Homo sapiens: one gene and its partner. The main gene of each other region encodes a partner of the protein of the gene in region 2 in a complex. Each region holds a gene or a part of one and is shown on either strand. Other genes may lie near its edges.

What was found. Proteins that work in one complex are often made in the same cells at the same time.
Region 1: the proteins of WAPL (region 2) and PDS5B are in contact, whole or in part, in a crystal structure (PDB 5HDT), measured with the Homo sapiens proteins. Residues at the interface, in NP_055860.1 of Homo sapiens: Lys7, Thr8, Tyr9, Ser10, Arg11; in NP_055847.1 of Homo sapiens: Gln47, Phe88, Ala92, Pro93, Ala95, Trp137, Val138, Lys139, Ser140, Asn142, Ile143, Phe145, Glu146, Glu187, Gly188, Asp189.

Annotation. Positions count from the first base shown.
Region 1 is NC_000013.11:32,581,468-32,589,460, forward strand, and holds the start of PDS5B (sister chromatid cohesion protein PDS5 homolog B), read left to right. Parts: upstream 1-4,984; 5' UTR 4,985-5,126; intron 5,127-5,801; exon of another isoform or gene 5,802-5,941; intron 5,942-7,993. UniProt on the Homo sapiens protein: Regulator of sister chromatid cohesion in mitosis which may stabilize cohesin complex association with chromatin. May couple sister chromatid cohesion during mitosis to DNA replication.
Region 2 is NC_000010.11:86,497,772-86,504,794, forward strand, and holds part of WAPL (wings apart-like protein homolog), read right to left. Parts: intron 2,973-7,023; coding exon 1,947-2,972; intron 1-1,946. UniProt on the Homo sapiens protein: Regulator of sister chromatid cohesion in mitosis which negatively regulates cohesin association with chromatin. Involved in both sister chromatid cohesion during interphase and sister-chromatid resolution during early stages of mitosis.

The sequences.
Region 1 (7,993 bases), on a different chromosome or scaffold from region 2:
GCAAAGTATGCTTCCTACGTATCCATGAAGAGTAAGTATTAGGAGTCAATTTACTTGGAATAAGAGGTGATACAAACTTGGTTCCATATAGAGTGAGCTACTACCCTATGCTCAAAAACAGGCTGCTTGCCTAGAACAGAAACGTGAAACTGAAAAATTGTTTTGGAGTTTTTGGCCATCTTACACTGGAATGCTGATTTTTAAATTAAAAAAAAATTTTTTTTGAGACAGAATCTTGTTCTGTTGCCCAGGCTGGAGTGCCATGGTACGATCACTGCTTACTGGAACCTCTCCTCATCTCAAGTGATCCTCTCTCCTCAGCCTCCCGAGTAGCTGGAACTACAGGTGCATGCCACCATGCCCAGCTAACTATTTATTTTTTATAGAGGGAGGTCTTGCTATGTTGCCCAGGCTTGTCTCAAACTCCTGGGCTCAAGCTATCTGTCCACCTCAGCCTCCCAAAGTGCTGGGATTGCAGGAATGAGTCACCATGCCCGGCCTGTAGATTTTTCAAATAGCGCAAAAGTAAATAACATTGATTAGTGATTGCATGTGAATATATGTGAAACATATTATATTGAAGGAATTTATACGCCTTTGCACAAATATTCAAAGCAGCAGTCTAAATTCTCCTTTGTCATTCTCCTTACTTTTCAAGTGAAATTGCTCTTGGTTCTATATCTCTTTATTATTTCCAGAAGTTGAACTGATGATAAATGCTTTCTTAAACCCAAATCTCTCTTTGGATGATAATGCAAGCTACGATATTTTGTGTAAAAATTTCTGACATCTATCTTTGGAACTCTTTAAAAAAGTTAGATGTATCAAACATATTCCAATATAGTTTCTGAAGATCTAGTTTACAGAAATTTCCCAGATGATTTTGGTATTCTTCCACTCCACTCGAGTTAAGAACAGCTGCCCTGGGACTGTAGATGAATGTGGCATCCTTTCAGGAATATTTGCATTGTAAAGAGGATCACAGGATGGGCACAGTGCCTCATGCAGGGGATTAATTGTGGAGGGAGAAATTTGAGGCACCAGGGGCTGAGTCTTGGATGAGGGTGAAGGAAAAGAGCCCGTATACCATCTTTCAGCAGTAGTGATGTCATGAATGAAGGATCAACTTCAGGGGCTTGGAGTTTATCAAAATGCCTCACCAGTTTGCCTAATGCCTAAAATATCACAAAGCTAATTTCTGTTGGGCTTAGTTTCTCCTAATGGATATGAATGGGTTAGTGTTTTTTTTTTTTTTTTTTTTGAGATGGAGTCTCGCTCGGTTGTCTAGGCTGGAGTGCAGTGGTGCGATCTCCGCTCACTGCAACCTCCCCCTACCGGGTTCAAGCAATTCTCTGCCTCAGGCTCCCAAGTAGCTGGGATTACAGGCACCTGCCACCACACCTGGCTAATTTTTGTATTTTTAGTAGAGACGGGGTTTCGCCATCTTGGCCAGGCTGGTCCTGAACTCCTGACCTCGTGATCCACCTGCCTTGGCCTCCCAAAGTGCTGGATTACAGGCGTGAGCCACCGAGCCCTGCCTAACTTTTTCAAGTAACACAACCACATTCCAACATGTTTTCTGAGAATCCAATGCCTTAACCCAATAAATTAGTCTAGTGGGAATTTCAGCACTGTTGCAGGCTAACAGGGATCATATTTTTGTCTTGACTAGCCTTTGGGACATACCTTGAATTATGCTGAACCGGTAATGTTTGTCTAGGTAGGGCCCAGTCTTATCATTTACTAATTAGCTGCCCAGTGTGCTCTACTATGTATAATATGATAAACATTTCACCATATTTTGGAAACCATGCTGTAGTGCAGCAAGGCTGTACTCAAAATGCAGTAGGGGCCATAGGGGTATATTTAGGACTGTCCAGGTTAATTGTGTGCATTCCTGATGTCTTTCAACTTGCTAACCTCTTTAACCTCAAATTTGGACTCTATTAAAAAAAGCCCAGGTAACTCAAATATGAGTGATGTGGCAGACTGAATAATGGTCCCCTTACAATATCCATGTCGTAATCCCCAAACCTTTGAATATGTTATGTTACATGGCAAAGGGGAATAAAGGTCACTAATCAATGGACCTTAAATTAGAGATTATCCAAGTGGGCCCAATATAATCACAAGAGTATTAAAAGTGGATGAGGGAGTCAGAGGAAGAGCTGCGGTGACAAAAGCAGGTCAGAGAGACGCCATGGAGCTGGCTTTGCGGATGGAGGAAGGAGGATATGAACCAAGGGATCTGGGCAGCCTCTGGAAGAAGGAAATAGTAAGAAAAGGGATTCTCCTTTGGAGCCTCCAGAAAGACACACAGCCCTGACAACACCTTGATTTTAGCCCAGCGAGATACCTGTCAAACTTCTGCACTCCAGTAAGACAATAAGTTTGTGCTCTTTTAAGCCACCAACTTTGTGATGATTTGTTATAGTGACAAAGTAAAATTAGTAGAGGTGGGAACTACATTTGTGGTTATTCATAATCAAAGACAATTCTCCTAACCATTTCTGTATAAAACCAGCATTTGGACATAATTCCCACATAATTTCTCTTTCTTGGTGTAGAAAGCATTCACAACTGAGTTTTGAATGGTTCACACTCTTAAACTGTCTTAAACAATGTTGTGTTATGTTGCTCCTAATGAATTGCAACTTGGCTATTTTTAAAAATCCCAAACACAGAAGATTATTTTTGTTCAAATATCAACTTTAGATTTTAGTTTTCCCAAACAATATTGTTTTAAATGAAGGTTTATATTACTGATTTCTGTAAAGCCACTTGCAGTCATATAAAAGTATGCCCTTTTGTTAGAAACTATGCCTCATTAAAGCTTTAGGGTTTTTCCTCTGTCTGTCCTAATGGTAATTGCCCCATTGACCCTTACAATGTAGCTATTTTGAAGGCTATCTCCTTTCTGCCCACTCTTTTCTTGGGCTTAATCCTGTGGTGTTAGCAGCCTAACGTGGGCAATATGTATTCCGGGCCTCATTGAAATTCAAGGCATCATTTTATAAGAGAGAGGGTTAATGGTGAAACTGGCAAAACTGCTCACAAAGTTGACGTGACACCTTCAGCCCTTTCAGGACTCACTGCCATATACAAGATGTAGAGTGACATTCTTAAACAATTCATACATCCAACAAAATATTTACTGAGGCTTCCAGGTGTCAAATAATGGGGATAAGAGCACTGAATAATTTATACAAAAACTCTTAGCCGGGCATGGTGGCTCACGCCTGTAATCCTAGCACTTTGGGAGGCTGAGGCAGGCAGATCACGAGGTCAGGAGATCGAGACCATCCTGGCCAACATGGTGAAACTCTGTCTCTACTAAGAATTACAAAAAATTAGCTGAGAGTGGTGGTGTGTGCCTGTAGTCCCAGCTGCTTGGGAGGCTGAGGCAGGGGAATTGCGTGAACTCAAGAGGGAGGTTGCAGCGAGCCAAGATCGCGCCACTGCACTCCAGCTTGGCGACAGATCAAGACTCCATCTCAAAAAAAAAAAAAAAAAAAAGAAAGAAAAAAGAAAAAAAAATTCTTGCTTTCATCCTGGCTTTCTTCTGAAACTTTCTGGCTTCCTGGCTTTGGAGGTTTGGGAATTGAAGAAAATAAAGTAAAAAACATAATAAAAACAACCAAAGAGGAAAGGTTTTTCTAGATCTAGACATCCTACTCTCCCATACAAGATTTATGTTGATGGAACAACGATGTAAAATAAGAAAATTCCTGAGATAATTTTAAAAAGAGGGCAGAAAAAACTCATAGTAGACTTCATCGAGGAATGTATAAAATGGGTAGAACCTGGAGTATTCAGTGGCAAAATCTTGGACACAGGAATACAGTAACACAACATATTGGTCTAGCAAGCACTGGAGGAGACTGAGGCGGAATTGTCCAGCGAATCCCACAAAAATGGAAATGAAGAGGTCTCAGTATCTCTAGGTGCCCGGGTCCGATGGAATACCGATGTACATACCTTTTCTAACACAGTAGCATTAGTTTATATATCAGCATTACCTCTCTTTTGTTTCAGTTGATAAGTATCCTACTGTAATCCATTCATTCACACTTTGCTTGTTCATTGTTGAAACAAATTCTCCCTGGAACAAAATTCTAGTAACCAAATACATCATATCAGGGGAAACTTCCTTACAGCAGGGATGGTATTAAAGTAAAAAGAGGAGGAAGTCCCTTCTTCAGCTCTGGCAGGGACCCGGCTGGGGAGGAAACCTTCCCGCAAGGTAGGTGATCTGCTGTGGTGACCAGGCTAAACCCACTCTACAGCTGCAGGAGGGACTGGCATCCCTTAGAGGTGAAGAGGGGAGGAGACCCACCTCCTGGAATGTGTCCCTGTGGTCTCCAGATGATTTCTTCCTCTAATAAGGACAATTCTGCCAAAGGAATGGAATGCTTCGTCACAGGCTCAATTACTCTGTCTCCGCCAGCCTACCACCTATAAACAATTCCTCAAATTAGGAAAGCGGGGAGATTTAATAAAGACATAACACGTAAAGTGTAGGAAAACTATTTGTATGGCATTCCGAGACGACTAGGTCAGAGTTAACAAGTAAGGAGCAAAGTAGTTAATAATACCAATTCTGTTTACCCATCACAACACCTGTGCTGAATGTCAGGGTTTAAAAAAATCTCCCAACCTTTATCTAAAAAGATAGGGCTACGTAACAATCGGTGTGGTTTTTGTCGGTAGAGGTCTAGGAAGCCGCAAGAGTAGTGGACGCCTTGACAGCTGCCCTTCTCGCGGGCCCCGCGGCGGCGTGCCCGTGTGGTTGCGTGCGCGCGGACGGGGCGGGGCTGAGGAGGGACGTGCGCGCGCGCGGACGGGGCGGGGTGGAGCTCGGAGGGCGGACGCGCTCGGGGCCGTCTGGTCGGCAGGGGGCGCTGCGCACCCATGCCGCGCTCTGCCTGCCCCCGGGTGCTGTCCGCGGCGGTTCGATTGGAGCAGCCGCCGAAGAGCGCTTGGCGCCATTTTGAAGCGGAGAGGAGGAGGAACGGCAGGGCTGGCTGCGGAAGGGGAGGGGGGGGGAGAAGGCGATTGGATGCGGCGGCGGCGGCGGATCCCGGAGAGCCCCGGAGTGAGCGGAGTAGCGAGTCGGCAACCCGGAGGTAGGAAACAATTCAGTTAACGGAAAGAAAATGTCTCTCTTCTCTGGCTGCGGCGCTCCATTTTTCAGCGGCCGCCACTGCCGCTGTGTGCGTGTGTGTGGCAGGGCTGAAGCGCCGCCCGCCTGGGTGCCAGGCGCGACTCGCCTCCCGGCATCGGGGGCTGCAGCGGGTGGCTGCCTGGCGGTGGCCCGGGGCGGGGGTCGCGGGGCGCGGGCCGGCTGCGCGGTGGGGGTGGGGAGGGCCCCGCGGCCGGCGCGCGCCTCCACGCCGCGGGTTCTGCCGCAGCCTCTGGAAAATTAAACTTGCCGCTCTGATCCCGGCCGGGGCGGCGGCGGCGGCGGGCGGTGACCTTGCGCGCGGGCGGGGGTCTCGGGGCCGCCCGGCCGCCCGCGCCCTCCCGCCGCCGCCGTCGCCGCCGCCGCGCCCCTCCCCCCGCGCCCCGGCCGGCCGGCGGCTGTTTCCCGGGCGGCAGGCGGGCGGCGCGGTGCTCCTGTTGAATCCTCCCGCGGGCGGGCTTCTCCCCCTTCCGGGCGAGGGGCGGGCGGGGACCGCGGGTCGGGGCCGCGGGCGCTCTCGCCCCCGCCGCCGGGTCCCCGCGCGCCGCCTGGCCTCCGCTTCGGGCCAGGGGACGGGCTGAGCGTGACATTTTTGCACTGTCCCTCGCCGCTCGCCGGAGGGAAATCGCGCTCACCGCGCCACCCCGAGTGGTCCCCGAGCAGCCAGTTGAGGAAGAGCCCAGCACTGGCGTGGAGGGACTCCTCCCAGGCCACAACTGGGTTCTAGCTTTCCTTTCAGAAGGAACGGCGGGGAAAATGGTGTGCAATTGTGACTCGTTATTGTTTTTACACTGTTATTTTAATGTTACTTTAAAAGTTTTCGGTCCGGAGAAAAACCTTGTTTGTTGTTGTTGCTGCTACTGCTGTTGGTTTTTGGTAGAGACGTGAAAGCTAACTCTTAAGTAGCTCGACAGTTATTTTGGACGAATGACTGAAACCAGAAACGCCGCCCCTCGCCTTCGGAGCTGCAGGCTGCTGCGTTCCTTGCCGCGGACGGGGCGAGCTCCGGGAAGGGTTGGTAGAGCAGCTACCCACCCACTCCACGCGCGTCTTCAACAGCCTCTCTCCCCCAGCGAGGGTTAACCCTTTTTTATGTCGAAGAAAGTGCTTCTCGTACTTTTAATAAGAGGTGATGGATGGGCAGTGGTGCCCAGACTGATCCTACCCTGTTGATGAAATAGTTTCGAAAACTTTGGGTATAGCCTTAATTTAGAGGGTTGGTCTGCGGTGTGGAGAGAGTTGGGTAATCCTATACTATCTTCCTAATGAACTTCAAAAACTCAAGTTGTGTTTACATACAGGAGGCGAGCTGTAAATAAATCGTAATTACCCAATGCTTGAACGGCAGTATAGTCATTGTTCTCAGTTAACACATCCCGAGTTCCCAGACAGAACGTTTTTTATATTAACTCATGTAGTGGTCAGGTAAAGTAATTAAAAGCCACAAATATGGACTTGAAAGACAGCTCTTCATGCAGTACACATGTCTGAGATGTTCGCATCTTTAGGGACAATAAAATGAGTATTCAATGGTGTATGCAGGTCAGTTCGTGCAACAATTAATCTTGTATCTCATGGTGATAGCAGAAAACCTAATTAAAATTTGTAGTGCTGAATATGTAGGTGAAAATTACATGGGAACTTTTATGTGAAGATAGATTTAGTCTCAGAAACTTAACTGTAAAAACACATCTTAAGAACATTATTCCTTATAAATAAAATTTGTACTTAATATACATTTACAAATATGTCTAACAAGATGCACTTTAGACTTTATAAAAATTACCAAAATAGTGACTTTTTCCTCCTTTTTCTGATGGTTTTAAAAATTGTTCTCTTCTCAGCTGGCGTTTACTTAAAGGTATATTTTAAATGGGAAGGTAGTGTTTGTCTTGGCCTTTTTTCTTTTTTTCTTTTCTCCTTGTTTCGGTTAAGGCTGATTTTCCCTATATTAACTTTTCTTTTACAGCAGCTTTTGTTACTCTTGTAGGCTTTGTTCTCTCGTGTTATGTCTCTCCCCTCTCCCCATATTAGAGAGAGATGTGGTGATGATAGTGATTGTTGTTAGGAGATGTTTGTATTAAGCTTATTTGTAATAAGATTCTACCGAGTTGGCTGTTGGATGAAAGTTGTTTAAATTGTTCTGCAGCTTTGTTTAACGAAGTAACATTTTGAGCAGTAGGCTTTATCAATAATTTGTTAGGCCTAAGATAAAGTGATACTCTGTATTAGGCAGGGCTTGCCCTGGAGAGGGGTGCAATGGTAGAAAATACCCAAAACTTTGTGGGGAAGGAATATTTCGGGAAGCTGTATTCTTTCTGCTTTACCTCTTGGGAAATTTAGAGACTGCCTTAGAACTAACAGGAGTGCTCAGTATGATTTGGCATACGGACTCTTGAATGACATGGACTGTATATAACGTATATTGGAAAAGAATACATTTGTGTTTCCTCTGTTAGTGTTAAAGAGCAACAAGAAAACTTAAGGATGATCTCCAACTCACTTATACATGAGAAATTAGGTTCAGATTTTAATTTCATTGATTTATCTGAGGTCACAGTCATATTCATGTGGTGGAACTGGGGCAGCCCTTAAGATATCCTGGAAGCTTAGAAGTTTCCCCATTGTCTTTTTTTGTTCTATTCAGGATTTAGCAATATTTATTAATAAAAATTCAGGGTAGTACATTACCCTCCATCCCCTTCTCACCTTTTTATTCATTTAACCAAGAATAAAGTTTTGTGGTTAGCCGTCTGTTTCAGCGTCTGGTTTTTAATAATTTCTGTTTAGGATTCAGTCCATTTAGGTTGT
Region 2 (7,023 bases):
CTACAAAAGCCACATTTAAAACACCAGAAAAGGAGGACAGTTATCCTTGGCAAGAGATTTAAAATGACCTAATATAACAAAGTTTAATGATTTGTCGGTCTTCAAACACAACTAACCAAAGAGTCAGTTTATTTCCCAACTGGTTAAAAATATGTATCTTTTTCTAAGCGAAACAAAATAGGAAACATAGAAAGACTCTTCTCTATCCCAATGCTTAAAATTTTTTGCTGTTTCACTTATGGTATGAAGACTCAAATTTCAACTTTGGGTAGATCAACCAAATGGCCTCTAATTTTCAAATGTTATTTAGCATCTACTTCAAGTTTCTCAAAGGGAGTCTAATTTCACATTTTACATCTTTAAAAGTTGTATTACACAAGATGTAAATTTCAGCCACAGATTCTCAATTGCAGGGGATAACTTGCTATCCAGGTTAGAATAAAAGCTTATAAGTAAACTACAGCAGGACAAGGGCGCTGGTATTGTATAGCAGTATTTATCATTCTACTGAGGAAACAAATGCCTAGCTGTTCTGCCTAGCCAGATCTTAAGTGACTATAGTAAGGCTGCTGCAAATTTCCAGTCTCCAGAAAAGATTCAAAGACAACACTGGATGTATTTCTTTTTTCTTTTTTTTCGGGGGAGGCAGGGGTGAGCCCCTAGGGGTACTCCTGTGTATGTCTAGTTTTGAAGAATAAATTAAGCAAAACTATTTTCAGGCCAAATAAAGCAAAATGGTAGGTAATCTCAAGAATGACTTATATTCTACAAGAGAATTTGTATTTCAAAATACTACTGTAATTCTAATTTACCATAATGACACTTCTGTGGCCCTACCAGGAAAAAAGCTTTATTTAATATGTAAACCAATCCAGAAAAACTATATTTGGTTAAGAAACCATGTATCCTAGAAGCTTTCACAAATTCTTCCTCACTAGATAGTCAATCCACTTCACAAAGCCCTTGTCAGGTAATGACTTAATTATGGCAGAGCTAACCTATTTCTTTTGTTTGTCTCTCACAGTGGAGACTGAACTCCTTGAGGACCCTTAGTCACTACTGAGTCTACAATCTCGGCACAAATTAAATTTCCACAGTTAAGAGGGAATGCATACTTACCTGGCACTTTTCAATTTTATTAAACCAACTTAGGAGGGTTTGAGAGTGTTTTGAATGTTTATTAGTTTTTAGCCAACCACAAAGAGTTTTTAAATTCTAATCTTCTGGTATTTCCCTCATTATAACCACCTGTTATCAGTACAGTTCCAAAGGCCCAAAATCTAATCTATGTTTTCACTGCATTTGCATTTGTCAAGTGGAAACATCACGATGTTTGGTGTCCCTGCCCCATACACATATATGCTTTAAAATTCTCAAGTGCTAAAGGTTAAATTAAAACTCAAATATGAAGACTCTCCAATCTACAAATTGGTTCCTTACAACTTGGGACCTGATCATTAACACTTGAAATGCTGTACCTTTAGATAAGGTGATTTACGGTTCTAACAGGTACTTTTAATAAATATAACAAGCTAAACTTGAGTATCTAGGAAGAAACTATGCAGCTGTTGATTCAAGCCTGAAAAACACATTTAAAGTAGCCCCCCCAGCCATCAACAGGGAATACATGCCAGTTCCTAGTGGATGCCTGAAACCAGGAATAGTACACCAAAACCTGTATATACTATGTTTTTTCGTATACATACCTATGATAAAGTTTAATTTATAAATCAAGCACAGTAAGAGATTAGCAATGACTAAGAATAGAACAATGATTTTAACAATACGCTATAATAAATGTTATGTGAATGGGATCTTTATCTTATTATACTGTACTCACCTCTTTTCAGAATATGGTTGACCTTGGGTAATTGAAACCACAGAAAGTGAAACTGCAGGTAAGGGGGAACTATTGTACTTATTATACATATTTTTTAAATTCTTACCTGCATTGTTAGTACCAGACTGACTGTCCTGGGAATTATCATTGCTTTCTGGGGGAGGCTGCAAGGAGGGTGATGGAGCTGTTTTAGTTCTTTTTTTGCTTGTCTTTCTTTCTACTTGACAGTCATCATCTTCATCATCTTCGCTTTCACTGAGATCATCAAAGCCAAAATACTTAATTTTGTAATTAGAACTTCCAGAACCTCCTTCATCACCTCCTGTCTCATGATCTTCAAAACCAAAAAATTCAAGTTTAACATCCTTTTTGGATTTAGTATTACTAGGTCGAAATCTAGTAGTAGTCTTAGAAGTTGCAATATCTGCCTTTTTTCTGAGACGACCAGCTTCTCCCAAATCTGCAGGAGTGGATGCAGTGAACTCATCCATGCTGCGTTCCATAGTATCCTGTATGGTAACATTACAAACTGACAAGCAAGATGGATGTAAAACAGTGTAATCTCTAGTCCGTCCAACTGTCCCTCTAAAACTGGTCCCACAACTTACACCCCCTTTCTTTGCCTGATTCAGGCCATCTTTACTCGATTCACTGTTTGCTTTGGCTAAGGCCTGACTGGTGCCGTCCATCAGCTTATCAAAATTTGATGCTCCTTGGGAGGATTTCGTTTTATTGGCCCTACAGTACGTCCTACAGTTGGTTGGCCTAAGAACACTTTGTACAATATCTTCCTCAATGGCTTCATTCAGATTTTCCAATCGATTTTTAAAATCGTCATCCTTCATCTCCAAAAGGGGATCACTATCCAAACTTAAAATACAGTCTTCTGATCTGATATCTTCAAAATCATTATCCCATTCAAACAAACCAGTTCTAACAGATCCCTTGATTGGAGATATTTCTGATGGTGATTCTGGCCTTTTCCCAAACTGGGAGTTCCAAGTATCATTTGTTTCCTTGATTTCAGAAGCCACTGTAGTTTCTGCATTGGGTTTCTTAGTACTGTCATCAGCATTTTTGTGAATATGGTGACTATTCTTTTCATGTTCTTCATGAAAATTCTCCACTTTATCTGTAAAAATAAGTCAAAGGATAAAAACATGAGTGGTATCAACATAAAAGTTAATAAATAACATATATGTGGTTAATCAATAGTATATGATCAATCTTGGAAGAACTGCAAATAATTTTAAGTTGTGAAGAAATTAACATTTACATATCAGACATTTCCTCTCCTATCTTTTCAGTGTATAGCTCTCATGCCTTCTACTGACCTTTCCTCAGGCAACCAAGTCCCTTAAAATTGTAAACTCACAAGAAATTTCAGCAGGGTTAAGCAACTGAATCCATTCAGAATGACATGTAAATGACTCAGCCAAACCTTCTTAGGGGTATTATGGGCTTTTCAAATAAAGATGCTTAAATTAAAAATCATTTAGTAAAACCTAAACCAACTGAACAGTTAATAAAAACCTTCTACCAGTGTTTTTATTTATCTGGGATAGGGCTGCCCATAAGGTATGCTAGTTCTATCCAGAAACCTGTCCATAGGATCAGGTTTCTCTAGCTATTTCTGTTCTTTCTTCTAATCCTAAATGCCATATAATCTCAAGGGAATTTTTAGCAGTAGTTCTGGTGTGTTAGTTAAATGGCTAATAGTGGCTATTTATGCATATCAGCCAGTAATAAATCCTCAGCCTGCCTATTCATCTGGTATGTGGAGAATTCATTTTTGTTGCCTTCAATTTTTACTATCAGAACATTTTTACAACCTTTCCAAATGAGATACAAATATGATTCCAACTGGTATTATTAATTCCCTCAACATTTACTTGTAGAAAAACACTGACAAAATGTATACCCTATGCCAAACAATAAAATTACTTCTACAAAATACATCTACATTTAAGAAAAGCTATTTACAAATCTCAATTAGCATCATCAAATACAGGTGAGAGGGATGCTTTACATGGACAGATTCACTGCATAATTTTTAATTCTACCCAATAGGTTTTCCTGCCCTCAAGACAGGATCTCACTGTCACCCACACTGGAATACAGTGGTGTGATCACAGCTCACTGCAGCTTCAGAGACCTCCAGGCCTCAAGTGATCCTCCCACCTCAGCCTCCTGAGCAGCACTCCCAAACAGCTGGAACTACAGGTGTGCACCACCACACCTGCCTAACTCCCCTTTTTATTTAACAGACAGGGTCACACTACGGTGCCTAGGCTGGTCTTGAACTCCTGGGCTCAAGCAAACGTCCTGCCTCTGCCTCCCAAAGTGCTACAATCACAGGCATGAGCCACCACGTCCAGCCTCCAAAGGGTTTTAATGTAATTTAACAGGTTAAGATTTGGTAATATCTTTTAAAACTAAAAATGTACATGTGAAAGAAAGGACTTACTCTTGAAGCCAGCAGTTTCATTTACAAGTATTTAGAAATAACTTTCCACGAACACAAAATTACATAAGTAACAAGAAACTCAATAGAACACTGTTTCCTGGTTTTTGCTTTCATAAACAATATACCAATTAATAAAGAATTAAATTACCATATAGCAACACACCTGAATACTATGCAGTTGTTAAAAAGAATGAGGCAGCTCTACATTATGTACAGATATGGATGCTCTTAGAGATGGAATGACTAAGGGATAAGGAACAAGAAAAGACTTTCATACTTCTTGAATTTTATACTGCATGTAAGTTGTCTATTCAAAAGCCAAAACATAAAAAATGCCAAAATTGTATATTTTTGGAGTCCTTATCTGTTAAAAAAATATATTTATGAATCAAATACAACATCTTGAATTTACTTTAGTGAGGATAAAAATGAAACAAGACTGGCAATGAATTGTTTGTTGAAGATTAAACAGTTGAACTGTTTAATGGAGATGGAGATACAAATAGACATTATTTTTGTAGACATAAACACACAAATGTATACATCTGTGTAACTGTATACTAGTCTATACACACAAATATATACAGACTTCCTTTACCCTCTTATAAGAAAATGAAGATACTTCCTTTGATTTCTTACCAAACCCATCATTACACAGATGAGAAAAAAAGGCCCAGAGGGGCTAATGACTGCAGAGGTTCTCAATTAAATCAATAGTCAAAAGAGACTTCATAAAAAAGACCCATACCAAACTATATTACACTACGTCTAGTGGTGGCTGCTAAACACTAAAATGCTAGGCCAGGCGTGGTGGCTCATGCCTGTAATCCCAGCAGTTTGGGAGGCCAAGGCGGGCGGATCATGAGGTCAGGAGTTCGAGGCCAGCCTGGCCAACATGGTGAAACCCTGTCTCTACTAAAAACACAAAAATTAGCCAGGCGTGGTGGCGGGCGCCTGTAGTCCCAGCTACTCAGGAGGCTGAGGCAGGAGAACTGCTTGAACCCGGGAGGCAGAGGTTGCAGTGAGCCAAGATCATGTCACTGTACTCCAACCTGGGCAAAAGAGCGAGACTCTGTTTAAAAGAACAACAACAACAAAACTAATTCACTGGCTGGGCGCGGGGGCTCACACCTGTAATCCCAGCACTTTGGGAGGCTGAGGTGGAAATAGCAAATGTTTATCTCACGGTGTGCTGAGGACTAAACTTAAACAATGCCTTTAACCTGTAAGAAATCTGTGCAAATGATACAAAGTGGCTTGGAGACCATAACCCATGAAATACAGTTGAGGCAACTAGAAAGGTTTAATTGGTGCAGGGATGGAAGAAAACTGCCATTACATGAAACCTGCCTTTAAATATCTGAATGGCTGTCATGATAAGAAAACAAACTTCGCCGGGTGTGGTGGCTCATGCCTGTAATCCCAGCACTTTGGGAGGCCGAAGCGGGTGGGTCATCAGGTCAGGAGATTGAGACCATCCTGGCTAACACAGTGAAACTCCGTCTCTACTAAAAATACAAAAAAATGAGCCAGGCGTGGTGGCGGGCATCTGTAGTTCCAGCTACCCGGGAGGCTGAGGCAGGAGAATGGCGTGAACCCGGAAGGCGGAGCTTGCAGTGAGCCAAGATCACACCACTGCACCACGGCCTGGGTGACAGAGCAAGACTCCATCTCAAAAAAAAAAAAGAATACACACATGAAAAATGCTTATCATTAGTTGCTAGGGAAACACAAAAGGTAAATTCCTTAATATACCAAGAATCCTTACACATCAGTAAGTCCAATGTCCCAGTAGAAAATGGCGCTAGGGGCCAGGCACAATGGCTCAGGCCTATAATGCCGGCTCTTTGGGAGGCCGAGTCAGGCAGATCACTTGAGGCCAGAAGTTCGAGACCAGTGTGGCCAACATGGTGAAACCCTGTCTCCACTAAAAAGACAAAAAAAACCCAGCCAGGCGTGGTGGCACATGCCAGTCGTCCTCGCTACTTGGGAGGCTGAGGCACAAGAATTGTTTGAACCCAGGAGGCAGAGGTTGTAGTGAGCTGAGATAGCACCACTGCACTCCAGCCTGGGCAACAGAGCAAGACTCTGCCTCAAAAATAAATGAATAAATAATAAGCCAAGAACACAAAGAAGCAATTCATTAAAATATATATCTATAATGAATTAAATAACTTATGAAGGATACTCAATTTCACTCACAATTAAAACTCAAAGTAAAACAAAGCTGAACTATATTTATATAAGCCCTCGGTATGTGCCTGGTAGTATTCTAAATACTTTCTATTAATTTATTTTATCTCAAAGCAACCATCAGGCCAGGTGCGGTGGCTCACGCCTGTAATCCCAGCACTTTGGGAGGCAGAGGTGGGCAGATCACGAGGTCAGGAGATCGAGACCAGACTAGCTAACACGGTGACACCCCATCTCTACTAAAAAATACAAAAAATTAGCCGGGCGTAGTAGCACACACCTGTAGTCCAAGCTACTTGGGAGGCTGAGGCAGAAGAATCGCTTGAACCTGGGAGGCAGAGGTGGCAGTGAGCCCCGTCGACAGAGCGAGACTCAGTCTCAAAAAAAAAAAGAAAAAGGAATAACAGGGACATAGCAGTACGTGCTTATAGTCCCACCTAGAGCTACCCAGGGCACTGTGGCCAGCGGTTCATTTGAGGCTGCTGTTATGATCACACCTGTGTGAGTAGCCACGCACTCCAGC